Linked DNA regions of Homo sapiens. The protein of the gene in region 2 interacts with the protein of the main gene of each other region in a pairwise test. Each region holds a gene or a part of one and is shown on either strand. Other genes may lie near its edges. The genes, in order: RAB11B, SPRED1, MESP1, AXIN1, PCMTD2, ZNF649 and GFAP.

What was found.
Region 1: the proteins of SPRED1 (region 2) and RAB11B interact in binary tests that used the Homo sapiens proteins (3 or more experiments, as listed by UniProt).
Region 3: the proteins of SPRED1 (region 2) and MESP1 interact in binary tests that used the Homo sapiens proteins (3 or more experiments, as listed by UniProt).
Region 4: the proteins of SPRED1 (region 2) and AXIN1 interact in binary tests that used the Homo sapiens proteins (3 or more experiments, as listed by UniProt).
Region 5: the proteins of SPRED1 (region 2) and PCMTD2 interact in binary tests that used the Homo sapiens proteins (3 or more experiments, as listed by UniProt).
Region 6: the proteins of SPRED1 (region 2) and ZNF649 interact in binary tests that used the Homo sapiens proteins (3 or more experiments, as listed by UniProt).
Region 7: the proteins of SPRED1 (region 2) and GFAP interact in binary tests that used the Homo sapiens proteins (3 or more experiments, as listed by UniProt).

Annotation. Positions count from the first base shown.
Region 1 is NC_000019.10:8,400,255-8,403,124, reverse strand, and holds part of RAB11B (ras-related protein Rab-11B), read right to left. Parts: intron 1,040-2,870; coding exon 846-1,039; intron 641-845; coding exon 560-640; intron 1-559. UniProt on the Homo sapiens protein: The small GTPases Rab are key regulators of intracellular membrane trafficking, from the formation of transport vesicles to their fusion with membranes.
Region 2 is NC_000015.10:38,321,989-38,326,071, reverse strand, and holds part of SPRED1 (sprouty-related, EVH1 domain-containing protein 1), read right to left. Parts: intron 3,832-4,083; coding exon 3,663-3,831; intron 1,310-3,662; coding exon 1,263-1,309; intron 1-1,262. UniProt on the Homo sapiens protein: Tyrosine kinase substrate that inhibits growth-factor-mediated activation of MAP kinase. Negatively regulates hematopoiesis of bone marrow.
Region 3 is NC_000015.10:89,749,089-89,752,855, reverse strand, and holds MESP1 (mesoderm posterior protein 1), read left to right. Parts: upstream 1-1,606; 5' UTR 1,607-1,624; coding exon 1,625-2,347; intron 2,348-2,628; coding exon 2,629-2,712; 3' UTR 2,713-2,981; downstream 2,982-3,767. UniProt on the Homo sapiens protein: Transcription factor. Plays a role in the epithelialization of somitic mesoderm and in the development of cardiac mesoderm. Defines the rostrocaudal patterning of the somites by participating in distinct Notch pathways.
Region 4 is NC_000016.10:289,895-293,869, reverse strand, and holds part of AXIN1 (axin-1), read left to right. Parts: intron 1-151; coding exon 152-382; intron 383-2,572; coding exon 2,573-2,680; intron 2,681-3,975. UniProt on the Homo sapiens protein: Component of the beta-catenin destruction complex required for regulating CTNNB1 levels through phosphorylation and ubiquitination, and modulating Wnt-signaling.
Region 5 is NC_000020.11:64,265,496-64,269,578, reverse strand, and holds part of PCMTD2 (protein-L-isoaspartate O-methyltransferase domain-containing protein 2), read right to left. Parts: intron 1,693-4,083; coding exon 1,569-1,692; intron 1-1,568. UniProt on the Homo sapiens protein: May act as a substrate recognition component of an ECS (Elongin BC-CUL5-SOCS-box protein) E3 ubiquitin ligase complex which mediates the ubiquitination and subsequent proteasomal degradation of target proteins.
Region 6 is NC_000019.10:51,901,775-51,906,485, forward strand, and holds the start of ZNF649 (zinc finger protein 649), read right to left. Parts: upstream 3,244-4,711; 5' UTR 3,140-3,243; intron 1-3,139. UniProt on the Homo sapiens protein: Transcriptional repressor. Regulator of transcriptional factor complexes and may suppress SRE and AP-1 transcription activities mediated by growth factor signaling pathways.
Region 7 is NC_000017.11:44,908,596-44,912,678, reverse strand, and holds part of GFAP (glial fibrillary acidic protein), read left to right. Parts: intron 1-881; coding exon 882-1,007; intron 1,008-1,222; coding exon 1,223-1,443; intron 1,444-2,020; coding exon 2,021-2,064; coding exon of another isoform or gene 2,065-2,210; exon of another isoform or gene 2,211-2,418; coding exon of another isoform or gene 2,419-2,543; exon of another isoform or gene 2,544-3,007; intron 3,008-4,083.

The DNA.
Region 1 (2,870 bases), on a different chromosome or scaffold from region 2:
CAAGAGTTAAGGCAGGGCCCATCCCCAGGAACTGGGGCCAGGGGGTCTCTGTGTCCCCAGTGCCAGCAAGGGCTAGACCTGGTCTGACCCTGTGAAGTGTCCAGGTGGACCGGCAGGTTTAAAAAGCAAAGGTTAGGGGTGGTGGTGGAAAAAAATCAAACAGGCCAGGTGCAGTGGCTCACGCCTGTAATCCCAGCACTTTGGGAGGCTGAGGCAGGAGGATCACTTGAGCCCAGGAGTTCGAGATCAACCTGGACAACATTGTGAAATCCTGTCTCTACTAAAAATTACAAAAATTAGCGGGTGTGGTGGCAGGCACCTGTAATCCCAGCTACTCGGGAGGCTGAGGCAGGAGAATTGCCTGAACCTGGAAGGCGGAGGTTGCAGTAAGCTGAGATCGAGCCACCACACTCCAGCCTGGGCAAAGAGCAAAAATCCATCCTGCCCCGACAAAAAAAAGAAAAAAACAAGCAAACGAACAAAACAAGCGAAGGTTCAGAGGCCGTGTTCCACCCTGCCTGGCTGGTGCCCTACCCACACCCATCTGGTCCCCGGCCACCTGTGAGGATGTTCTTGAATGCTTCCTCTACGTTAGTGGAATCCAAGGCTGAGGTCTCGATGAAGGACAAGTTGTTCTTTTCTGGAACAAAGAATACTGCCTAGGTGAGTGGGGAGGCAGGGTGACAGGCTCCCACATGCTCTCAGGGACCCCGCCCACCCACCTGGCCCATCCCAAGGCCACTCCTCAGGGAAGGGAAGCCAGGGCTGTGGCCAGGGCCCCAACACTGTGAGGGGCCTCCTGCCTTCCAGACACCTCTCTGATGCCTGCGTCTCCGTCTGCTCACCTGCGAAGGCGCGGGCCTCGTCAGTGGGCACAGCCCGCAGGTGGCGCAGGTCACTCTTGTTGCCCACCAGCATGATGACGATGTTGCTGTCTGCGTGGTCCCGCAGCTCCTTCAGCCAGCGCTCCACGTTCTCATAGGTCAGGTGCTTGGCGATGTCGTACACCAGCAGGGCGCCCACTGCACCACGGTAGTACCTGCAGGGTCAGGGGCCCATGAGCCTCTCTGGAGGACAACCATGGGCAGCGGCAGCCTCACGGGATAACAGCACACATCACGCCCAGGGTGGGTCGTCCAGGGCCGAGCCAAGGGGCAGTCATTGTGGCCTCAAGGGAAGGGTGTGTGTCTGGAGGCCCCAGCGCTGCTCCCTGGATCCAGCTCTGAAATGTGGGGGTCTGAGGAGGGAGTTTGGGAGCTGGAAATAGAAGATACCGTGAGGTCATCAAAAAAAGGGAAGAAGGGGCTGGGCATGGTGGCTCATGCCTGTAATCCCAGCACTTTGGGAGGCTGAGGCGGGTGGATCACTTGAGGCTGGGAGTTTCAGACCAGCCTGGGCAACATGGCGATACCCCATCTCTACTAGAAAAACACAAAAATTGGCCGGGGGTCGTGGCTCATGCCTGTAATCCCAGCACTTTGGGAAGCCGAGGCAGGTGGATCACGAGGTCAGGAATTCAAGATCAGCCTGGCCAAGATGGTGAAACCCCATCTCTACTAAAAATACAAAAATTAGCCAGGCGTGGTGGCAGGCGCCTGTAATCCCAGCTACTCGGGAGGCTAAGGCAGGAGAATTGCTTGAACCCTGGGGGGCGGGGGGCGGAGGTTGCAGTGAGCCGAGATTGTGACACTGCACTTCAGTCTGGATGACAGAGTGAGACTCTATCTCAAAAAAATAAATAAATAGGCCAGGCAGGGTCGCTCACGCCTGTAATCCCAGCACTTTGGGAGGCCGAGGCGGGCAGATCATGAGGTCAGGAGATCGAGACCATCCTGGCTAATGCGGTGAAACCCCATCTCTACTAAAAATACAAAAAATTAGCCAGGCGTGGTGGTGGGCGCCTGTAGTCCCAGCTGCTCAGGAGGCTGAGGCAGGAGAATGGCGTGAACCTGGGAGGCAGAGCTTGCAGTGAGCTGAGACTGCGCCACTGCACTCCAGCCTGGGCGACAGAGTGAGACTCTGTCTCAAAAACTAAAACTAAAAAATAAATAAATTAATTAATTAAATTAGCCAGGCATGGTGGCACAGGCCTGTAGCCCCAGCTACTCAGGAGGCTGAGGCAGGAGAATCGCTTGAGCCTGGGAGGTCAAGGGGGCAGTGAGCTGCAATTGTGGCACTGCACTCCAGCCTGGGCGACAGAGCAAGACCCTGTCTGTCTCCAAAAAAGAGGAGGCGACAGCCAGGCACGGTGGCTCACGCCACCTGTAATCTCAGCACTTTGGGAAGCCGAGAGGGTGGATCACCTGAGGGCGGGAGTTTGAGACCAGCCTGACCAATGTGGAGAAACCCCATCTCTACTAAAAATACAAAATTAGCCTGGTATGGCGGCATGTGCCTATAATCCCAGCTACTTGGGAGGCTGAGGCAGGAGAATCGCTTGAACCCAGGAGGCGGAGGTTGCAGTGAGCCGAGATCGTGCCATCGCACTCCAGCCTGGGCGACAAGAGTGAAACTCCATCTCAAAAAAAAAAAAACAAGAGGAGGTGACAGAGAGACAGATGTACCTGAGGGATGAAGGAGATGGGAGGGAGCCCAGAGGATCTCAAGACGGTGGTGGGAATGGCTGGGGGGCTTGGGAGGGGTCCAGAAAAAGGCAGCTGAGTGGGTCCTGATGGCTGGGAAGCCTTTGCAGGGAATGGAGGCCAGGCCCAGGTGGGAGGACAGGAGGCGTGTGGGACCAGGTGTGGGCACCAGTGAGGAGGGAAGCTGAGGGAGGAGGAAGGCTGGGATGCTGGCTGGGCAGGGGCAGCGGCAAGGCGGAGTGGCCTGAGCTAGGTCCTCACTGCACTTGGTACCCAGAGATACCCTGG
Region 2 (4,083 bases):
AACTTCACTAAAACTCGCCTCAAAGACCTTCCAGCTTTTATTTACTGTCTGAGTCCTGAGTCCAAAGTCATTCCCATGTTTTAGTATTTGTTACAGCAGCACTCCATTTTCAGGTCTTCAGAATCTGCATTAGTCAAAAATCATTCCCAAATTTAGTGGCTTAAAATAACAAACATTTATTATTTCACAATTCCTGTTGACCAGGAATTCAAGAGCAGCTTAACTAGATGGTTTTGGCTCAGGGTTCCTCATAAGGTTGCAATGAAAACATGCCACAACTGGTCATCTATTAAGGCTTGCTTGGAGCTGAATAACCTGCTTCCAAGGTGGTTCACTAATATGGCTATTGTCTGAACGCTTCAGTTCCTCACCACATGAATATCTACACAGTGTTGCTTGAATGTCCTTTTAATATGGCAGTTAGGCATCCTCCATAATGTGGGTGACCTCACGCAATTAGTTGAAAGGCATAAGAAAAAAGATTGAGGTCCTCTGAAGAAAATAGAATTCGGCCTTCTCATGACTGCAACATCAACTTGTGCCAATTTTCAGCGTGCCTGCCCATTCTGCCAACCCAGCCCACAATCTTATGAACCACTTCCTTAAAAAAGAAAAAAAAAACCCCAGAAACTTTACTTTCTATATAAAGATTGATATCTCTTATCTGAAATGCTTGGAACCAGAACTGTTTCAAATTTCAGAATATTTGTATGTGCATAATAAGACATCTTAAGGATAGTACCCAATTTAAAGATGAAATTTATGTTTATACACCTTATAACACACAGGCTGAAGGTAATTTTATACATGATTTTAAATAATTTCGTGCATGAAACAAAATTCTGACTGCATTTTTAGTGTGATTCATCACATGAGGTCAAGTGTAAATTTTTTCTACTTGAGGTGTCATGTCCATACTCAAAAAGTTTCGGATTTTGGGGCCAGGCACGGTGGCTCAGGCCTATGATCCCAGCACTGTGGGGAGGTGGGTGGGTTGCTTCAGCCCAGGAGTTCGAGACCAGCTTGAGCAACATAGCAAGACCTTGTCTCAAAAAGAAAAAAAGTTTCAGATTTTGGAACATTTCAGATTTTAAATTTTCAGATGAGGGATGCTCAACCTGTATTGGTTCTTTTCTTCTGGAGAAATCTGACAAATAGAGTGTCTTAGAAATATTCTTAGTAATTGATAAGTTTATTGAATAAGGCTAGTGATTTCTTCCACATCCTTTATGTTTACAAATTCCTTCCAAGCCATTACTTACTTGTAAGTCATCTGCCCCTTCAGCTTCATTTTTTGATTCGGGGCATCCTAAGAAAATAGATAAAAGTTAATTAAGTATAGAATTTTTGTCTTAGAGTCCAGTATTAATGACTAATTGATTATGTCATTATAATACTTTAGAAGACTAATCAGAGATCTTTCTGGACTGCCTGGCAATTAAGGTACTGGCCACTTGCATTTGCCCCTGTTAGAATAATGGAGAATAATGTAATTATTTCCCTCCTCTATAGGTAAATTTCCAGCTGCTTACTAACGAGATGTTTTCTCTGAAAGTATACTATCTCTAGCTACCCCTGCCCCTAGTTTCTCCCAAATACTCAAAATTACTAGGCAGATTATAATTACATTGCTCTGGTGATGCTAAGATGTGATTTATTCAATTTTTCTAAATGCTTTGACCCAGGAAACAGTATTTAGTACCCATAACCAGGATTTTAGTTGCTTTAGCTAAGATGGAAAACAAATGAGTTTTAATCCACTATTGACAGTTAATGGCCAATTGTTGTTACTGACTTTTTTGCATCAACGTCTCTGTACAGATTTTCATGCTGTTAAGAGTACCTTTAGTTTCAATAAATTAATAAGAAAGGATTTGTCCTAGCAAAGTACTCTTAGTTCATGCTACCCTTGAGAGGCACAGCTTAGCACGGAGTAGGCATGAGATAAGAAGAAATGCGCCCTTTGGAAAGAGCAGCATATTTTATCTTTTTGTCACAGAAGGTCGAGTAAAAGCAATTTGAGATTGTTGAAAGTCTATATAGCAGCTGATAATAATGCTAGCTAATGTTTTTTAATGTTCAAAAATAACAAGGCAGACTAAGTACTGTAGTCTACTCTACCTAGAAGTTTGTAAGCTACTCCTTATAAATCATTTTTTAAAACATTAAACCCAATCTGTTTGATCCTAGTGAAAGAGGTATACTGTTATGGTACATGAGCATAAACTTAAAAGTAATTCAAAACTTTAAATCATATAAATTCCAGCAGCCATGGATACTATTTTTCTCTCTCTTTAAAGCACTGGTTCTTCAAACCTGGCTAAAGGTTAGAATCAACTGAGGAATTGTCAAAAAATACACTGATGCCAGAGTATGGCGTCAAACCAAAATATATCAGAATCTCTGTGGAATGAGGCACAGAACATCATGTATTTTTTTTTTTAAGTTTCTTATTTTTTTTTCTTCAAATTCAAATTACAATTCCTTGACTAGAGAACAATTCTTCACCATATTTGAACTTTCTTGGAGTTTTTGAAAAATAAGGGATGACTCGACTCTATTCCCCAGATAGATTCAATTGGTCTGGAGTGCAGACTAGTCATTTTAAGCTTCAAAAGCTTCCCAGGTGATTTTAATGTGTAGCCAAGGTTAAGAACACTGATCTAAGGAGAATTTATGGGGTCTTACAATAAAGACAAAATGGCTACTATTACTTCATAGTAATTTTTTCTGGATCAGAATAAAAAATTACTCATTTACCAAATTCTAATCTTTTAAAGTAGCTAAATAAATTACTTAACTACAGTTTTATGCACTATCAAAACAGATTTGTACAATGTATTTCCATGTTCTTGCCTGTGACTGGTCTCACAGTTTATGTTTTCAGATTTTCTTATTAAAATGACATCTTCAAAATAACACAAATCACAACGTAGTCTAGCACACTTTCAGTTACTTTATATAGAAAGTTAGTTAAATTGAAATAATTTTCCTCCTAATTAGAAAAAAAAATCAAGTCTTAGTTCTTCCTTTATGGGAAGAAATGGGTTTTAATGTGATTTTTGTTTAAGTAAGCATAAGCCAGTCTTACATGAAAAAACATTATTCTTCCCTTCAAAACCTGTATGCTTTTGAGTTAATAATTTTAATAGACTGGCAAGATAACAAAGGAATAGATGAGCTTGTGGTCTCTGCCAATCCTCAATAATGAAATCAATCAAGTAAAGACTTTTGTCATGGAATAACTAGAGTCTACATACATTTGAATATTACAAGTTCTATATAATTACCCAAAAAAAGGATGTGACTGGTGTCATACATACACAAGTAGAATACCAACTGGGATTCTCGCAGCTGTACATTTCTATTCCCTCTTCCTTCAAGCTCTTATTTTAAAACATTTGAATTATCTGAAGTCAGCTGTTGATGGACTCTTCAAGATAATACATGCAATTGACATAGACTATGATGTGACAAATACAAATCACGTTAAGGAATCTATTATTTTATCTTCATCTATTGTGAGGTTTCAAAGCCTGGTCACATATCACAAAAGCTGACATGGTTAAAGTGTGAAAACTACTTTGGGTCAACTTTAAGAAAGATAACCTCTACTATATATAACCGATAAATAAATTAAGAAAATAGTCAAGAATACCTACCTTGAGAAATATCCTCTATAGCTCTTCGGATACCTCTATCAAAAGCCCTAGCATCAGCAGGACTTTGAAACGTAAGACCAAACTTCTTGTCATCAATCTTCCAGTGGTGAAATGTTGGAGTGACCTTATTATAAATGAGGTCTTTTTTAAGCATACATTCCAAAACCACCTGACAAAAGCCAAATACCAAAAATTAATATACATATATCAAATGCATCTAATGTAGCTCATAAATACAAACTGAGGTGATACAACGCTATTACTTTTTAATGAATAATTTTTAGTATTTTAAATAAAGTGGTCTACTTCACAAAGTCACTCAATAAAGAGATTAAGATGGAATAAAAAAATGCACATTATAAACAGGATGCTTATTATACTCCCATTTTAAGAATACACACATATATACACTCCCATTGCA
Region 3 (3,767 bases), about 51 Mb from region 2:
GTGGCCAGGGTGGTCTCAATCTCCTGACCTCATGATCCACCCCCCTTGGCCTGCCAAAGTGCTGGGATTACAGGTGTGAGCCACCGCGCCCGGCCCAATATTAACTTTCACCTGAAAGGTGTCTGCGGCCTTTTCGACCAGCTGAACACCATAATCCTCTTTAAGTGGCTGAATGGTCACACCTCTTCCATTGACAAGCTGGGTTAAGTCAATAGGTTGAGTAGGATCAACACGACCCAAATCAGTAACATATTACAGTCTATTGATACTTAAAGGTTGATACTGGTGTCTGAAGCTAAGTCCTTCATTAAATCTGTATTTTGGGATTCCGATGTAAAATAGAGTCTGGCCATCCCCAAAGCCCAGCAGAGCCAGTTTCCTCTCTGCCTTTCTCTTTTATGGCCTCTGCCGCATTTTCTACCTCTTCTCCGACCTTTTGGTCGTCTCATGGGTTTCCTGGAGCCAGGATTCCGCTTTAAATTGGTCAGGCTCATGCGCAGCAGGGCCCAGAGCTGCCATAACCTGCGAAAAGAGTTTTATTTCTTCCTTTCTGACCTGTATGTCTTTTGTTTCCTAATTGCATAGCCTAGATCCTCCATCTGGTACAATGTTGAATAGGAGTGGTAAGAGAGACACCCTCGCTTTGTTCCTGCAATCGGGGGGTGGGGGGAAGATTTCAGTCTTTCACTACTCAGTATGAGGCTACCTGTAGGTTCTTTGTAGGAGCCTTTCATCAGGTTGATGAAATTCCTCTCTATTCTTAGTTTGCTGAGAATTTTCATCACGAAGGGTGTTGGATTTTGTCAAATGCCTTTGCTGCGTCATTTCCACTCACATTTCATTGGGAAAACCTGTTATACCTGTCCAATAGCGGCAGAACATCAGGTAAAGGCCAGTGGTGACAGCTGTGGCAACAGGCCAAGCTCCAGACCTTGCCAGGCTAGAGGTGGCCTGGGGTTGGAGCAGGCTTAACCCCCTCCCTCTGCTCAGAAGGTCCAGCATCCTGACCAGACTCGGCAGCTTATTGAATTTGCCGGGGTGCAAGCTTCCTTGCACTGTCCACATGTTCTTACCAGGGAAGGGTCTACCCAGGGCCATCCTGCCTCAAAGGAGAAGTGGTTTACTGTTTTCTCCACCTTTAGAGGGAATGAGGGTCCCTGCTCCTGGTCCTTACTCTACTCCACTGTCCAATTGGCGCATGCCCTGAGGCTCTCATTATACAAATTGGAAGCTAAGGTGCAAAAGAACTAAGAATTTGCATAAGGTCCCCAACAGGTGAAGGCAGGCCCCAAACCTAGGATCTAGATTTCGTTTTTCTGACCCCGCTTCCTTTAACCTGCAGGGCTGGCCCAACGCCCCGGGCTTCACCCAACACTGGGCGCAGGCGGGAAGGCCGAGAGGCTGGGTCGGGCGCCCAAGCGAGGGCCCAGGTGGGGCGAAACAGGCGCAGTCAAGGGGCTGGCACCTTGGCCCCCCGCCGTGGATTCAAAGGGTCAGGCTCCGCCCCCTCCAAGCCCCGAGCCCACTTTGATGTGCTGATGCGGCCTGGAAGGGGCCACTTCACACCTCGGGCTCGGCATAAAGCGGCCGCCGGCCGCCGGCCCCCAGACGCGCCGCCGCTGCCATGGCCCAGCCCCTGTGCCCGCCGCTCTCCGAGTCCTGGATGCTCTCTGCGGCCTGGGGCCCAACTCGGCGGCCGCCGCCCTCCGACAAGGACTGCGGCCGCTCCCTCGTCTCGTCCCCAGACTCATGGGGCAGCACCCCAGCCGACAGCCCCGTGGCGAGCCCCGCGCGGCCAGGCACCCTCCGGGACCCCCGCGCCCCCTCCGTAGGTAGGCGCGGCGCGCGCAGCAGCCGCCTGGGCAGCGGGCAGAGGCAGAGCGCCAGTGAGCGGGAGAAACTGCGCATGCGCACGCTGGCCCGCGCCCTGCACGAGCTGCGCCGCTTTCTACCGCCGTCCGTGGCGCCCGCGGGCCAGAGCCTGACCAAGATCGAGACGCTGCGCCTGGCTATCCGCTATATCGGCCACCTGTCGGCCGTGCTAGGCCTCAGCGAGGAGAGTCTCCAGCGCCGGTGCCGGCAGCGCGGTGACGCGGGGTCCCCTCGGGGCTGCCCGCTGTGCCCCGACGACTGCCCCGCGCAGATGCAGACACGGACGCAGGCTGAGGGGCAGGGGCAGGGGCGCGGGCTGGGCCTGGTATCCGCCGTCCGCGCCGGGGCGTCCTGGGGATCCCCGCCTGCCTGCCCCGGAGCCCGAGCTGCACCCGAGCCGCGCGACCCGCCTGCGCTGTTCGCCGAGGCGGCGTGCCCTGAAGGGCAGGCGATGGAGCCAAGCCCACCGTCCCCGGTTAGTGTCCCCTTCCCCGCGCCCCCTTCGTCCGTGCCCCCGCGCACAGCCCCACCGCCCGCCAAGGTGAGGACCAGGCACCCTGCTGCTCCCCGCCGGCAGCCTGGCCACCTGGCCACCATAGTATGCCCAGGGCTCCAAGAAGCGAAGGCAGGGAAAGGCCACGCAGAGGACTGGGTCTCCCCTCGCTAGGGGCCCCCTGAGAGTGGAGCCCACGAGCGCGGACACCCGCACAAGGCCACCAGTGCTTGAGGGCTGCGCTGTTCCGTCTCTCCCTACAGCTCCTTCCGGGCGACGTGCTGGCTCTGTTGGAGACCTGGATGCCCCTCTCGCCTCTGGAGTGGCTGCCTGAGGAGCCCAAGTGACAAGGGACAACTGACGCCGTCTCTGTGAGCACCGAGGCTTTTTGGCCTCAGCACCTTCGAAGTGGTTCCTTGGCAGACTGCCTTTCCTGGAAGAGGGCACGGGCGATCCCGACGGGGGCATTCCTGCGGGTGAGAGCCGTCCCCACCGCGGCGGCCCTTCTCAGCCCCTCCCTCCATGGAGGGACCCATAGGGCTAGACACTTTGAGGCAAGCAGGAGGCTCTGCCTAATGTGAATTTATTTATTTGTGAATAAACTGTACTGGTGTCAGTTGGCAATTTCTTCTTCCTACCCGTGGACACAGAGCTCCCTCTCTCCCTCCAAAGAAGAGCATGGGAGAGGTGGGAGGGGTTCTTGCAATCTTTAGCCCCCCGACCCCCACAGGCCCAGACCCCTTTGGCCTTACCCCCAGCCCTGGCTCAGCATCTAGTCCAGATGGGTCAGCCTGGAATGGGTGGGGAGGGACGTCCTGTGAGAAGGCAGCGGCAAGTAGAATCTGCTCATCTTTTCTTTGAACCTGGTGGGGAACTGGTTAAAACCAAAATATCTGTGTAGAAATACAACTCCATTATTGAGTATTTATTGTATGTACATCAGGTACCTATTATACTCAAGTAACCATTTTACAGAAGGATGAGGATCAGCGCTCAAGCCCAGGTAGGCCTCCAGAGTCCCAGCGCTCAGCTCTTGTGGGATTTTGCCAGCTCCATACATGTTGGGGCCTGAGGGATAACAGCTCCAAGGGGTTATTTTCTTGCATCCTGTGGTCTTATTCTCCATGCACGGGAGCATCCTGGCCTTGGAACTCCCCCACCCTCCGCCGGCATTTTCCCATCTGCCTTTTCTCTGGTTTCCCCACCTTGTGGCTTAGAGACATAAATAATGGTGTGGCGGTCCTGAGTTTATATAACCATGACCTCCTACAGGCCTAGATGGGGTGAGATGAGGGGCCCATGGGGTTGCATCGGAATCCACACAGGCAGTTGCGTGCCTGTCTGCATTGGCTGGATTCACATCAGGGAGCAAGAAACGGGAGGCTTGAGCCCAGAAAGTGTG
Region 4 (3,975 bases), on a different chromosome or scaffold from region 2:
GAGGACGTCCATGTGGCTTGGTGGCCAGGCCCCAGTGCCCCATCCCATCCTATCCCTCAAGGAGGCTGCCCTTGTGAGATGAGTGTAGCCCCACCAGGCCACCTGGCCAGGGTGTCGGCCACAGTCACAACTTGTTCTCTTGTTCCCCAAGGTCTTCGGGGACGAGGAAGCCACAGCCCCATGAGAACTCCAGACCCTTGTCCCTTGAGCACCCCTGGGCCGGCCCTCAGCTCCGGACCTCCGTGCAGCCCTCCCACCTCTTCATCCAAGACCCCACCATGCCACCCCACCCAGCTCCCAACCCCCTAACCCAGCTGGAGGAGGCGCGCCGACGTCTGGAGGAGGAAGAAAAGAGAGCCAGCCGAGCACCCTCCAAGCAGAGGTACGGCCGCGTCGTGGGGTGGGGTGGGTCTTGGGGGTTACCACAGCACCACTCCTGGGGCTGAAGCTCCCCGAGGCCTGAGGTCTTCAGGGGAAAAACGGCCCTCTGGGTGTCCCCCAGCCATACTGGGCCCTTCCATCCACTGAGAACCACTGAGGGGCCACGTGGCAGGCCACCCTGCGGTGGACGGAGGCTGGGGCTGGAGCTTTCACACACCCGAGGCCGCCGCGCTCATTGCTCTGGAGGCGGGGTCCCTCCTCAACCTGAGCCCAGTCTGCAGGGAGGCTGCAGGGCCCCAGTGTGTGGGGAACGCCGGTCCCCAGCCAGAGGCTGCTCGCTGCTGGGCAGCCTGGGCTTTAGGGCAGAGGTCCTGGAGGCATGGCGGCTGCCTCTTGACAGTTGCGTCCCAGGAGCCCTGAGTGGCTCTGCACGGTCGGAAAGCTACGTGGTTCTGAAAGCCGTGCAGATGTAGAAGTGTCGTCCTGGACGTCCAGCCCACAGCCCTCCTCGCTGTGTCCTCTTGTCATCCTGGATGTCCAGCCCACAGCCCTCCTCACTGTGCCCTTCTCTCATCCGGGACGTCCAGCCCACAGCCCTCCTCACTGCGCCCTCCTTGGTCTTCTGGGCTCCGTAGCCAGACCCTGTTCTCTCCCTAGGGCAGGGAGGCTTCTGTCTGGGCTGCAGGGAGGTCTCCCCTTTGTGTGGGCAGCATTTTCGCTCCAGGCCAGAACCTGGCTTCTCCATTTTCAGCTTGCTCATAAGGCCAGTTTTCTCGGCCATCCTGGGTCATTGGAATTCCCCACAGATCAGTGTCTCTTTGAGGGTCCTGGGAGCCTATAGCTCACCCAGGCCCTGGGGCTGTGGTCACAGAGGCCATGGTTGCCTTCAGAGGTCACCAGCTCCTCCTGTCCACCTTGGGTCACCTGGGGCCTGGGGTCCAGGCCCGCCTCCCGGGCCTCCAGCTTTGGGGCTGTGCCACTCCAGGGAGGCTGTGGCTAGGGGCCTTATTCTGCCGAACCAGCATCAGGGTTCAGACCCTTCCCAGCTGAAAGCCTGTGTGGTCTCAAGTCATTAAAGGTTCCTGAGCTTCTGCCAGGCTGTGAGCCTAATGACAGCTCTGGGGCCAGAAAGGGTCACAGTTACCTCAAACCCAAAGGGTGACCACTTTATGACCAAACATCTGTGACCCTGTGATCGTGTTCGGCCAACAAGGAGCTGGAGCCCCCTGCCATGCAGGAGCCTGGAGTGTGGTGCTCGGAGCCGGGGCGTGTGACTGGGCTGGCAGATGAGCCGTGGTGGGCATCGTGTGCAGCAGGTCCGAGGCCCTGGGCGTGTGTGGGCTCTCCTGCCGGGGCTTCCTGAGCCATCCTTGCTGGGCTGAGCAGGGGTCTCTCAGGTTGCGTCTGCGCTTTCCCCTGGTACCCGTGGCCCCACATGATGGCAGGGGATGCCCGCTGAGCCGTGGGACCACTCCCGCCGTTCTGAGACACGACCCTCCCGCCCGTTTGGCTGCTGGGCTCCAGCATCCCCCCATGGGGAAACCCAGAGTTGCTGGGTTTGTCCGTCCAGGGGATGTGGGTTTTTGCGAGAAGCTGTGGAGACGGAGTGAAGGCCCAGAGGCAGGTTGGGTGCTGGGCCCTGTCAGGATGTCAGAGTAGAAACCACCATCAAGGTCGCCCAGTGTACCCCGGTGGAGGTGTCCACGTGAGAGGAGCTGCTGTGCTGCCCCAGGATGGCCTCAGTTGTGGCGCCGGGGGGCCCTCAGCCTCCCTGAGGTGCAGACCGAGTTGCCACGCACGCCCCAGAGCCAGTGTCCACGCTATCGGTGGGGAATTCATGCCAAGAGACTGAAGGACAGACTCTCGGGACGAGATGTCATCCCACCAGAGGGGATGAGGTGGTGGGATCCCAGCACCCCTGATCGGAAGCTCCCCAAAGTGCGGTCCAGGGAACTCAGGGGGTTGGTGCCGGGATCATGAATGTGGGGCGCGCTGCAGTATCGGGTACCACCAAGGCAGGCCTAGGAGGGGACTCGGTGTCTTGTCTACCCTGCAAACTGGAGCCTGCGCAGGGTGGGTTGTTCGGGCCCTTCACGCTCCGTCCGTCCCTGCGCAGCAGCATTGGTCGAGGCTCCCTCCCCAGGGCTGGTGGCCGCCGGCACAGCCACCTTTGACGCGGGTTGTTCCCTAGGTATGTGCAGGAGGTTATGCGGCGGGGACGCGCCTGCGTCAGGCCAGCGTGCGCGCCGGTGCTGCACGTGGTACCAGCCGTGTCGGACATGGAGCTCTCCGAGACAGAGTACGTGCGTCCTGAGGGTCCTCCCGGTCCTGCCCACCCCAGCCCTGGCGTCCCAAGCCAGGTCCCATCGTAGAGCCGCCGTCCCGGGGCTTGAGCTCGGGTACCACGCTCAGAAGCAGCTGTGGCAGGAGAGGGTCCCGTGGCATCAGACTCGAAGCTGCCCGAGAGCCTTCTCCTGTCTCCATCAAAGGAGACGCTGACTGTCCAGCATGATGACAAGTGACCAAAAGGCCCGGCTGGAGGCCTGGGCACAGCCAGCCCCTGCATCCACACAGGTGTCACGGCCAGGCTTCCTGTGGGGCAGAGACCTGCCTGCGCCTCCACCCGGCTTGGAACGGGCCGGTCCCTGCCAGGCCTGACTTGACCAGGCTCGGGGCTGCAGGTGCTGAGGTGCCCGGGGTGCGTCTGCTTGCAGTGTGGGTCTCAGCCATGCGTGTCTGTCCAGCCCGTGCAGTCAGTGAGTCGGGGCTCTGCTCCCACCTACAATGCTGACTGCTCTGAACCCGTGAGAAAGGGCTCAGACCATGTGATCCCACATGGGCCGTGTCGACGGCGCCTTTATGTGCTCAAGGTGGCAGGAGGAGGGGGCACACCCCAAAAGGGGCCTTGAGAACAAGGGTCCCCCAGGCCTTGCCAGGCTTGCCCCAGATGCAGGTTTGTTGTGGCCCTCATCGTGTAGGCGGTCTTGGGGCAGCCTTCACCTGTCCCTGGGGCAGCCCCCACGTGTTGGCTCTTCTCTGATGGGCCTGGCTCCAGGAGGCTCCGAGGATGTGGCACTGGGAGGACGTCTAAGAGCGCACGTGGCTGGGGGCCTGGTGTGCAAAGAGGATGGTCACATGGCTCAGGTGGCCATGAGGCCTTCCTGCCCTGGTGTTGGCTCTGGAAGCCTCTGGTGCACCCAGCCAGGAGGAGGCCCAAGGGCTGAACCCCAGTGGGCCAGGGGCAGCTTCTGGAGTCACTTGAAGGACAGGTGGCGGCGGGGTAGCCGAGTGGGGGGTGCGAGAGCAACCAGGCCCCGCCCGTCATCCCGGCACGGCTGTGGAAGCACAGCACCTGTCAGAGGAGGGCCCGGCTCAGCCTGGGCAGGAGACGGTGCCAGCCCTGCCCCCTCTGAAGGGCCTGCTGGCCACCCCCGCCCCAGTCCTCCGACAAACTTCGCTGCGGGGTCAGGCTTATCCAGAAATCGTGCACAGTTCTGTTTGTCCAATCCCTGCCCTTCAGATGTTTTTAAGGTTTGGGGGCCGTAGGTCTTCCTGAGATAGGAGCCCTGCAGCCTGCCCTGCCATCCTAGAGGT
Region 5 (4,083 bases), on a different chromosome or scaffold from region 2:
TTACCAACATGAATTTACTAGTATAGGAAACTGGCCCAGGAAAAGAAAAGTTGCAAGTAACTCAATGGGTCACTTCAGAAACTCTAAAAGCATCACATTACTGTTGATCATCTAACACTCTCTTCAAAGCCATCTCCTCAAAACAAGCATCCAAACTGCCCACCACATTGTCATGATTCTTCATCGGCCAGACGAACCCCACAGGGAACGGCTCGTTTCAACCAGACCCTCAAAAAGTCTCATAAATACCCCGAAGATGCCCCTGCCTTCCCAAACTCTGCTAAGGCTCTGGAAGCTGGTGCCCTCCCCGCCAAGGGCGGCAGTTACTTAAAAGGTTATTCTGATGAGACTTTCAGAGCACGCATTTGACAGATTCACCCTCCACCCGACGACAACCAGGCTTATCCAGGATACACAGGCACTGTATCTTTTATTTAAAGCATCTGATAGCTCTCCCCAGCCTACATGATAAACCCAATTCTAACCTACATACCAGTAGTTTCTCCCATCAGTCCCAACTCTGACTACACGGGGAACACGCATTTTGATTTATGTCCTGCCACTGCTGGTACTTTTCTCCCCTTTCTTCTCTCTTTAGGGAACTCCTTTTTGCCCTTGAAGGCCAAGCACAGACATCACCCTCTGCCAAACCTTCCCTAATTAACCGTTTTGCATGTCCTATTGTTGCTCATTATCAAATTTCAAGAACCGTGTCTAGTTCTTAGAACCTGTACTTAGTAGAGACCAAAGCAAAGTGTAATCATTTCATAGGTGATTCCTAATAAATCAAAAAACCTTTCTGGAAGAGATTTGCCAAAATGTAAAACTTTTTGCAAAACTTTTTTTTTTTTTTGTAAGACTATGCAAAACTTTTCCCTTCCTATTATTTTTTGCATTTTCCAAATTTTCTAAATGATCAGAGAGCATCCTGATAGTTTTATTTTAAATAAAATCAATTGGAACTCTCATTTCTGTGTGAGCCGTTTAAATTTTAAAACATTAGGAGGTTTTGCTGTCGTGCTGGCCCTGGTATCAGTTCCTTGCTCAGTTTGCATCCTGAAATAGTGAAACACAAAGGCTCGGCTGTGTAAGGTTCCACGGAAAGTCTCCTATCCACACCCCAGCAGATTAGCTGGAATGTGTTCTCTAACCTTGTCTACCCATGAGGCAGCAGGCGCTTGGCGCCCTGGGGAGCAGAAGCCCCATGACTCTGTAGGAGCCCTCTGGCTGATGGCTCTTTCTGTAAGCCCCTCCCAGTGGAGGCGGCAAATAGGCTAAGTCTCCCACATGGCAAAATGAGCTCCCTTTTATGTGCGTCCTCGGCTTTCAATGGTGTGACCGGCAACAGCTCTTTGTAGATTTAAAAGACGGCTAAAATTACCTGAAATAGGTTAAAAATAGATTATAATTTTTATAATGCCTGAAATTGCTTGTAGAATTTTACAGTTTCAGCATGGGAGTGGTGCTTTTTAATATCAAAAGGTTTGTTGTAAATTTTGTTTCCTTTTAAAATCTAACCAGAGAGAAAAGATCTAAAAGATAAAATAAGTAAAGATTGGTATACTTACGTAACTGGACAAGTCTTGATTTTCCTGACTCTGAATGGCAGGGCTGGATCAGAGGAGCAAAAGAAACAGCAAGAATCTTTTTGGTTTCCCAAGCTGAAGGACCTGTGCGTGTTATCTTAGTCAACTATCCCAGAGACAAAATGAGAATATTCAAAAGAATTGGCTACTATTTAGCTCATATTTAATCATTCCTATACATACTATAAAAATACATAGAAATGCTTACAATAAAATGAAATATCTTGACATACGGACCCCTAATGTGATGTGCCATGAAGTACATCTACCTTATGAATATTCCTGCAAAGATGCTAACCTGAATATATTCAGGCCCTAGGCCTAACTTCTGTTTACAGAAACTATATATTATAGAGAAACTAGTTATAGGATAGCAAGAGGAAACAACCACATAGACAGTGTGGGGATTCTTATAAGACAATGCTCTAGCACTCTCCAAAAAAGTCAATATTGAGGGTGAAAAGGGGGTCTGTTCTAAAGCAAAAAGTAATTACAGATACGTTACCAACCAACTGAATCCTGACCTGTTGTTATTGGGAGGGTGGCTAAGTCCTGATAGGCACTGTAGTAACAGATACTGTTACAGAATCCCTGTTACTTTTTTAAATGCAAACTTGTCATCTTGGATGCCTGGGCAATTATCCTCATGCTTTGGAGACAAATACTGAAGTGTTTAAATGAGCCTTGCCCTGATATCACCCCCACGAAAGCACCGGAATCTGGTGGCTTAACACACTCCAGTGTAGGCCATCAAAACATTTCTTTTGAATTAAAGTATTACGAGCACCAGAGACCACAATTAGACATGACCCTCTGTGCACTCTGTGTGGCTGGGTCAGTCTCCAAGTGGCCTACACAGGTCACAAAACTATTTCTGGTCAGTTCTTTCATGCTATGATTATATGCTGGCCTTTTCTAAAAATATCTAAGTCAGTAAATCCTCTAAAAACTAAGATTCTATGTCATGAATCTTATAACTAAAAGGATTAAGTCGCCACGTACTAAGTAAATATCAACAAACATTCTTGTATACCAGCAAAACATATGTTTATTTAAACATTTTTAAAAGAATTTCTAGTTACAATGAAAAACAAGTATTTCAATAGAATCAATAAATGATGTATAAAACCTTAAATAAAACTATATAAACCCCTATTTCATATTCTAGATAAGCAGATGAAACATTGTAAAGATGGCCACAATCCTCAAATTATCGAGATGATACAATTCCAATAAAAAATCCAATGCATTTTGTATAGCAACAAAGATCTGTAATATCACTTGTATAAGCAAAGACATTTAAAACAATATTCTGCCAGGTGTGATGGCTCATGCCAACAACTCTGGAGGCTGAGGTGAGGCAATTGCTTGAGGCCAGGAGTTTGTGATCAGCCCAGGCAACACAGTGAGAGCCCATCACTAAAAAAATAAAATTAGGCCGGGCACGGTGGCTCACACCTGTAATCCCAGCACTTTGGGAGGCCGAGGTGGGCGGATCATGAGGTCAGGAGCTCTGAGACCAGCCTGAACAACATGGTGAAACCCTGTCTCTACTAAAAATACAAAAATTAGCTGGGTGTGGTGGCACGCACCTGTAATCCCAGCTACTCAGGAGGCTGAGGCAGAAGAATCGCTTGAACCCAGGAGGCAGAGGTTGCACTAAGCTGAGATCGCGCCACTGCACTCCAGCCTGGGCGACAGAGCGAGACTCTGTCTCTAAATAAATAAATAAATAAATAAATATTTAAAAAATAAATTTATCTGGGCATGGCAGCACGTGCCTATAGTGCCAGCTACTTGGGATGCTGAGGCGGAAGGGTCACTTGAGCCCATGAGTTTGAAGTTACAGTGAGCTATTATCATGCCACTGTACTCCAGCCTGGATGACAGAGCAAGATCTCATCTCCAAATTTTTATTAAAACAATTAAAACCTCCTAATTTTTATTATTTGTGTTTTCCTAGTTCTTTGTGACTGGGAGACATTCTTCTTGGTGACCAATTCATGTCTGATTAATCTGTTCATTTACTATAAACTATTTTTCCCAGTGACATACAGTAACACAGACAAACAAGCATGACCAAACAGCAAACTTGGACAAGACTCTCACTAGGCAAAGGATTCCTGTCAAATGCATAACATCAAGGCATGTAACAATTAGACTAATGATGAGAATAGAATGACTCTATTTTATATATAATTCTAACAGCAGAACAATTATAATAGATTAACAATTAGAATTAAAACTCAGAACAGCTGGGGGGAAGGAGAAGGGGAAGGAAGAGGGAGGTGAGGGGGAAGGGACAGAAGAAGGAAAAAGAGAGAGACAGAGAAGGAAGGTGGAGAAAAGCGTTTCACGTGCAGGCTCTGAAGCACCCACCTGAGTCAGCTTCTGGCCCCAGCTAGGGCATGTGCGTGACCCTGCATCTCCCTCACCTGTCCCTGCCTCTGTTTCCTCATTTGTGAAATGCAGGAAATTGTTAAAAGAGTAAGTATCC
Region 6 (4,711 bases), on a different chromosome or scaffold from region 2:
TCTATAAAACATACAAAAATTATTCAAGCATGGTGGCACATGCCTGTATTCCCAGCTACTCAGATGGCTGCGGCAGGAGGACTGCTTGAGCCTGGGAGGTTGAGAGGTTGAGACTGCAGTGAGTTAGGATGGTGCCACTGCACTGCAGGCTGGGTGACAAAGTGAGACTCTGTATCAAAAAAAAAAAAAAAAAAAAACCTAAAGAAAGAAGAAATAATAATAAAAATAAAAGAGGCTTCACACACAGATCGGCCCTTTCTGCTCTTCTGCCTTCTGCCATGTGAGGGCACCGCATTCTTCACCTCCAAAGAAATAGCGACAAAACACCATATTGAAAGCAGAAATCAGGCCCTCACCAGACACCAAACCTGCTGGTGCTTCGATCTTAGACTTCTCAGTCTCCAGAACTATAACAAATAAATTTCTGTTGTTTATAAATTATCCAGTCTCAGCTATCTTGTTATAGCAGCACCAACAAGGCTAAGACAGCATCCTATAATTTAATTCAGTCTGAGACTGTGTATCTAGATATAGTGTCAGACACCACAGATTAAGGGCTCAGTTCAAGCCTGCCCCCAACTTCAGACGCAAGTTGCAAGCAGCAGGTTGTCACCTGTACCTCTGATGGACCAGCTATAAATCAGGATTCACACGGCCTCCTCCTCAGGTTCGATTAATTTGCTGGATGGCTCACAGAACTCAGGAAAGCACTTAACATTTACTGGTTTATTTCAACTCTTTTCCTGTCTAGAAAAACGAAGTGCAGCTCACTGCCAGCGCTTATTTCATTTTACATAAACATGCTCTTTGAGGCTGCAGTAAATCTGATTTTCAATGTGAAAATAAAATATAAAAGCTGTTCTAGGAGTTATTTCTAAACAGAACTAACATCAGAATCATCTGAATCATCAGAATTCTCGATTTGGAATCATCAGAATTCTCGATTTGGTAAAAATCGGATCCATCCAGTGAGTCTTCAGCCAAGAACTGTTTGAGAATGATGTTAACATCACATGTAGGAATGCTACGTTTTCTAGGATTTGACATTTTCAGTGATCGAGAACTACTACATTTTGTAAATGGAAATACCACTACTAAAAACAGAATGCTATAAGTAGAATGATGTCTTTTGTTTCCCAAGGCGACCTACTAGAGCGATGTGAAAATAATAAAAGTGAGATCGTTCATGGCAAAGTTATCTCGGGGTAAATGCTCCAGCTGCAAGCACCAAAGGTGAGTATTCTCAGGGCAAATGGGAAAAGGAATAAAGGATATTACGAAGGATACAGATGAAGAGGCAGATGGAAGGGATAGCACAGAGCAAGGTTTGTAGCAAGGGGCGTGGGACTTCCATGCCCTCCACGGAAGCTTATTAGAGACTCAGTTCACCACCCTCAGGCACCTCCACATGCTCAAGAATCTGTAAGTTCCCCAGAAGTTCACCAGTCCTTTTGAGTTTTTACGCTGGTTTCATTATGTGGGCATACTTGATTAAAACACTAACCACTGGTGATCAACTCAACCTTCAACTTCCCTGTTGCCAGGCAGAGCTAAAATTTCCAACCCTCAAATGACATGGTTAGTTGCCCTGGCAACCAGCCTCCCCCGTCCTAAGGCCAGCCAGAAGCCCCCAGTCACCAGCCATCTCAATGCCACACAAAAAGGCACTGTTTACTGAAGAGGTTCCAAGGCTTTTGGGAGACATGTGCCAGGAAACAGGACAAAGATCGATTATACATTTCTTATAAATCGTAACAATCATAGCTAGGCGCGATGGCTCATGCCTATAATCCCAGCACTTTGGAAGGCCGAGGCGGGCAGATCACCTGAGGTCAGGAGTTCAAGACCAGCCTGGCCAACGTGGTGAAAGCCTGTCTCTACTAAAAATACAAAAATTAGCCGGGCGTGGTGGCGGGCGCCTGTAATCCCAGCCACTCGGGAGGCTGAGGCAGGACAGTCGCTAGAACCCAGGAGGCGGAGGTTGCAGTGAGCTGAGATCGCACCACTGCACTCCAGACTGGACAACAGAGCTAGATTCCGTCTGGGGGATAGGAGGAAACTTTGATCCCCAAATGCTCAAGGAGACTGATGCTTAAGCAAACTAAATATTGCCTGAGAACGACTCCATACTTCTATATTTGAGTCCTTGTGGATAAACTGCAACCTAGCTTAACAGACAAAATTGAAAACCGAACTTAATCGTATGCACCTGTAACAATAGCTGAGTGGTGGCCAGTCCCAGCGGCCATACTCATAGACTGCTGAATGTTCCAACTGCGTTCAAATAAGGCAAACGCCGAATGGTAACCAATCTCACTGTTTCTGGACCTCGCTTCCGATTCCTGTATGTCACTTTACCTTTTTTGTCTATAAATTTGTTCTGACCACGAGGCACCCCTGGAGTCTCTGTTAATCTGCTGTGATTCTGGGGGCTGCCCAATTCGCGAATCGTTCATTGCTCAAGGAAACTCCTGTAAATTTAATTCGGCTTCAATTTTTCTTTTATCACTGATTTGAGTAATAATAAAACTCCGGTCTCCCCGCACAGCCGGCTCTGCATGAATTGCTCTTTCTCCATTGCAATTTCCCTGTCTTAACAAGTCGGCTCTGTCTAGGCAGCCGGCAAGGGTGGGCGGTTATAGTTTCACAACTCAACCCCAGCCAGGGGCCTGGGCTTGTAAAATACCAGATTTTACAAGCCTCTGAGCCCCACATGCCTGGGCCTCCCCGAAACACTTAACACACATCCCCGATTCACCCCAAAACCTACACCACACACCCTCGTACGCTGCCCAGCACCCCGGCTTCATCACCGACTTTAAACTGCAGCATTTGGAGTGATAATAATGGCGTCGGTGATAAAGCCGGCGTGCTGGGCAGCGTCCCCCTAGAGTTCTCCATCCAGTGATCCAGAGGCCTACTAACAGAGTGACCCTCAGAGACCCCAAACTCTGACGCCGAGTCTCAGTCGCTGAACTCGACAGACCTTTAACGCCCGACCACAAGAACTCTCCCACGCCGGACCGCAAAGGCACCCCAACCCAAAGGCTCCACCGCCCAGGCCGCCAGCTCTCCCCACAGGCTCCTCAGAAGCTCCCTACCCCTTTAACCTACTCCACGGAGAGACCCAAACACTCACCTGATTTTCTTCTGGCTACACCTAAATTCCCTGAATGCTTCCTTTCCTGGCCCTTAAACCCCGGCACTGGCCTATGGCGGCGGACGAGGGCGCGAGTCAATTCTGCCGCGCTAGGACGATGGGACATGGGCTTCTCTTCGAGGAGGTAACATGTCCGCGCCCTGAGCCACGGCTCTCTGGGCGCGGCCATCTTGGTAGATCTGCCGTACAGAAGGGAAACAGTTGTTCTTGTGTCATTAAACCGGGATGACTCTCCTGAAAGCAAAAATTTGAGGCGCAGGAGCATTTTCTAGAGTTTATCTGAACAAACAGCAATTCATGAATTAGGAAGCATCAAACCAAAAGAAGTCTCGCGCTTCTATGCTTAAAGCATTAGACACAAGTATTCACAGGGTGAGTGAAGGAGTAAAACAAAGAAATTATTTGATTAGTTACAATTATAAAAATGCATTTTTTTAAATTTGCCTTGGAAAGTCCCTAATGACATAATAGCATGTGAGTTGCCTACTTTTGATCGGTTGAGATTGAGTTTTGTCCTTCCCTAACACAAGCATTTACCAGAAATGACTCAAGTGAATTGTTGCTTATGTTTGCAGGTTAAGCAAGGTTAAGGCTGTTTTTAAGGCCTACTGGGTTTTGTTTGCTCAGGAGTTTTTGAATTCTGGTCTGCATTTTAATTTTGCTTTGACACAGGAGACAGTGAAATGGCACTGATGTGTTCCCTCTCCTGACACCTCAACCCCTGCACTGTGAGGTTGGAGCACTAACAACAGTGCACTGTGGGGAAAAGAAAGAGAGATCAGACTGTTACTGTGTCTATGTAGAAAGAAGTAGACATAAGAGACTCCATTTTGTTCCGTACTAAGAAAAATTCTTCTGCCTTGAGATGCTGTTAATCTGTAACCCTACCCCCAACCCTGTTCTCACAGAGACGTGTGCTGTGTTGACTCAAGGTTTAATGGATTTAGGGCTATGCAGGATGTGCTTTGTTAAACAAATGCTTGAAGGCAGTATGCTTGTTAAAAGTCATCACCACTCTCTAATCTCAAGTACCCAGGGACACAATACACTGCGGAAGGCCACAGGGACCTCTGCCCCAGAAAGCCAGGTATTATCCAAGGTTTCTCCCCATGTGATAGTCTGAAATATGGCCTCGTGGGAAGGGAAAGACCTGACCATCCCTCAGCCCGACACCCGTAAAGGGTCTGTGCTGAGGAGGATTAGTATAAGAGGAAGGAAGGCCTCTTGCAGTTGAGACAAGAGGAAGGCATCTGTCTCCTGCTCGTCCCTGGGCAATGGAATGTCTCGGTATAAAACCCGATTGTATGTTCCATCTACTGAGATAGGAGAAAATCGCCTTAGGGCTGGAGGTGAGACAAGCTGGCGGCAATACTGCTCTTTAATGCACCGAGACGTTTATGTATGTGCATATCAAAGCACAGCACCTTCTTCTTAAGCTTGTTTATGACACAGAGACATTTGTTCACATGTTTTCCTGCTGACACTCTCCCCACTATTATCCTATTGTCCTGCCACATCCCCCTCTCCGAGATGGTAGAGATAATGATCAAT
Region 7 (4,083 bases), on a different chromosome or scaffold from region 2:
GGGGCATTTGGGCTAGGCAGGACAGGCACGCTGTGGACAGGAAGAGAAGAAGGGAGGGCCATTCCTAGTGGAGGACAGAGCCTGGAGGCAGAAAAGCACAGAGAGGCAGGGCCCCAAGATGCTAGCCTAGCCAGGGCACCTAGCTGAGGAGTGTGAGTGGCAGAAGCCACTGGTGTCTGAGCAGGGTGAGGGCCCGATGGGGCTGGGAGGACCTCCCTGCAGGCAGGGGAGAAAGGGCTATTAGAACCCAGGGTGAGGCCAGGCGAGGTGGCTCACACCTGTAATCCCAGCACTTTGGGAGGCCGAGGCATGCGGATCACCTGAGGTCAGCAGTTCAAGACTAGCCTGGTCAACATGGTGAAACCCCGTCTCTACTAAAAATACAAAATCAGCCGGGTGTAGTGGCGCATGCCTGTAATCCCAGCTACTCAGGTGGCTGGGGCAGGAGAATTGCTTGAACCTGGGAGGCAGAGGTTGCAGTGACCCGGGATTGTGCCACTGACTTCCAACCTGGGCGACAAGAGCAAGACTCTGTCTCAAAATAAAACAAAAAAAACAAAAAAACAAAAACACACAAAACACCCAGGCCTCCGCTCGCCTAAGACGACAGCGTTCAGTCCCGCAGATGCAGCTGTCAGTGTGGAAGGTTCTGGATTCTGTGGCACTGTTCATTCATTCGCTTGCTGACCAGGTGTTGTGCTAGGTGCTGAGGTCTGGCAGCCCGCTACCCTGCCCGCATCCATGGGTCACAGTTGTTGGGAAAAGTCCCAGCCAGGGCCAACGTCCTGGGGTTAACTGGGGTGCTGCTCACCTCCCTGATTTCCCAGAGCCCGTGCCTGCCCATGGGCCCACACAGCCCCCCATATGTGTCCCCCACCTAGTTTGCAGACCTGACAGACGCTGCTGCCCGCAACGCGGAGCTGCTCCGCCAGGCCAAGCACGAAGCCAACGACTACCGGCGCCAGTTGCAGTCCTTGACCTGCGACCTGGAGTCTCTGCGCGGCACGGTGAGCGCGGCCAGGGCAGGACGGGGACGGGCGGAGCAGGGACGGCCACCCCAGGAGATGCCAGGGGAGAAGGGCCAGGGACGAGGACCTGGGTCGAGGGCGGGGCCTGAACGTTACCCCCGGGCTAGAGGCGGGGCCTGGGGCCGGGGGCCGGGCCTCGAAACCTCCCCAAGTCGGGTCGGGGCTCCGCGGGACCGGCCGGCTCCATCCCACAGAACGAGTCCCTGGAGAGGCAGATGCGCGAGCAGGAGGAGCGGCACGTGCGGGAGGCGGCCAGTTATCAGGAGGCGCTGGCGCGGCTGGAGGAAGAGGGGCAGAGCCTCAAGGACGAGATGGCCCGCCACTTGCAGGAGTACCAGGACCTGCTCAATGTCAAGCTGGCCCTGGACATCGAGATCGCCACCTACAGGAAGCTGCTAGAGGGCGAGGAGAACCGGTGAGCCCTCATCACAGCCCCTGGGGAAGTCTCCCTGCTGCCTCACGGTAGAGCTCATCTTGCTCCCTTCAGGGACTGAGTCTTTTTCAGCCTTGTGTGCAGATCCCTTCCCACCTCAATGCCCAGCACAGTGCCTGCCTCACACATAGCAGGCAGTCACTAGATGTTTGATGACTGAATGGATGGATGGATTCAACCAATATTGATTAGGCCTCAAGGCCAAGGACTTGGGTCACCCTCCAAACTAAGAGGCATACTCCCCATCTTCCCAGCCAAGATTGGACTCCTCACCTCACCCATCTCTTCTGCCTCCTTGGAACTTTCTTCACCACTTTCCCCTCCCTTTTCCATCTTCCTTCAGATAGACATGCGCCCCTCCCAGATAACACTCAAGCCCCTTGCAGACGTTTGGAACTCCAGATAGCACGTTGGCTGCTGGGGAAAAAGCTAGGAGATGGAGTTAGACTTTCCTGGCAAGGAAAAGGGCGTTCAAGTTGTCATGATGGCCCCGCACCAAGACCCAGCCTAGGGGTGTCCCAGGCAGCCCGGGCAGCCCTCTCCCTCTGCTTTCTTTCAGGATCACCATTCCCGTGCAGACCTTCTCCAACCTGCAGATTCGAGGTCAGTACAGCAGGGCCTCGTGGGAAGGGCACTGGAGTCCTGCCCCCTCCTCCAGGGCCTGTAGGTTGCTCCAGACTGGGACTGAGGATCAGGGCAAAGGGATCCAGCTCTCCCTGGGGGCCTTCGTGACACTGCAGCGCTCCTAGCCAGAGCCTATCATACCAGGGTACTTCTAGGTGGGGCTTGCAGCTGCCCCTGTCCTGCTAGGCCCTGGTCCCTCTTCCCCTCCCTGCACCCCATTCGACAGCAGAACTGGGTGAGAGCTTGACATCTGCCCTGTCTGCAGATCCCTGAGCAAGCACTGCCCTTCTGAGTGTTTTCTGTTTTTGTTTTTTTAACTGCTTGTCACTACAGGGGGCAAAAGCACCAAAGACGGGGAAAATCACAAGGTCACAAGATATCTCAAAAGCCTCACAATACGAGTTATACCAATACAGGCTCACCAGATTGTAAATGGAACGCCGCCGGCTCGCGGTTAGCTGCCTGCCTCTCAGACACGGCGCTTTGCCCAGCTTGACAGGGAGTGAGCCTCACCCACCCCATCCTCCCAATCCCCCTGAGTTCCCTCTTCCCAGGCTTCCCCTAAAGGGCCTGGACTGCGTCATTTTCCCAGGAACTGCAGTGCCCAGCCCAGGACGTGGTACAGAGTAACTGTACATTAAACTGGCAGAGCTTGTTAGTGGTAAAGGTGGTGAGTCCTTGGGTGCGCAGTGGAGCTGCTCTGGGGCCTCTGAGCAAGCAGCAGCCTCTGTCTCACCTCTTCCTGTCACTGGGAGGGCCCCTTGGGTCTCGCTGTGCCTGGACGCCAGGCTCTCTGCTTTATTCTTTCATCCCTGAGGCTCCATCGCTCAGCTCAGTGCTGACTCAGTTCAGAGGATTCTTCCCTCAGGACCGCAGCTCTTGCAGTGAATAAAGTTTTATGTTCCCTGCTCTTAATGTTAAATATTAGTGAATGTGACGTGTTATATTTTTCTCTCTCGGGCGGGGCGGGGGGAGGGGGGAGCTAAATTACTTTTTACTTGCATTGGCCCTGAAATGATTCTTAGCTAAGGAACAAAATTCCTCTTCTTCTGGACTAGAATATTTAGGACCACTAGATATGCATGTCTCAGGACTTAATTCAGCATCAGAAAGGCTAACCAGGCTGACTAGTAGAGGTAATACTGCCAAATCCTAGATAGTCACAGGTCACTAAAGCACAGATAAATGGCAGAGAGAAGTAGGAAAGAGGAAAGGGGACAGGAAAGGGACCTATGTGTATTGAGCACTAATATGTGCCACATGTTTAACAGCCTTTATTTTAGTTAATTGTCTCCTCTCTCCCACCTAGAGAAGTAGGCCCCATCATCCTTATTTTACAGATGAGGAAACTGAGGCTGGGAGAGGTCAATTAACTTGCCCAGAGTCATGTGGCTGGTTGGTGGCTAAGTTGGGACTTCTTGAGCTCTGGTCTCCTGATCCTTCCTTCCTTCCTTCCTTCTTTTCTTCCTTCCTTCCTTCTTTCCTTCCTTCCTTCGGCAGAGCGTCCCTCTGTCACTCAGGCTGGAATGCAGTAGTGCAATCTTGGCTCACTGCAACCTCCACCTCCCAGGTTCAAGCAATTCTCGTGCCTCAGACTCCCGAGTAAGGGGATTACAGGTGCGAGCCACCACACCTGGCTAATCTTTCTTTTTCTTTCTTTCTTTCTTTCTTCCTTCCTTCCTTCCTTCCTTCCTTTCTCTTTCCTGCTTGCTTGCTTGCTTGCTTGCCTGCTTTCGACGGAGTCTTACTCTGTTGCTCAGGCTGGAGTGCAGTGGCACGATCGCAGCTTACTGCAACCTCCGCCTCCCAGGTTCAAGTGATTCTCCTCTCTCAGCCTCCTGAGTAGCTGGGACTACAGGCACCTGTCACCATGCCTGACTAATTTTTGTATTTTTAGTAGAGACAGGGTTTCACCATATTAGTCAGGCTGGTCTCAAACTCCTGACCTCAGGCGATCCACCTGCCTCGGCCTCCCAAAGTGCTGGGATTACAGGTGTG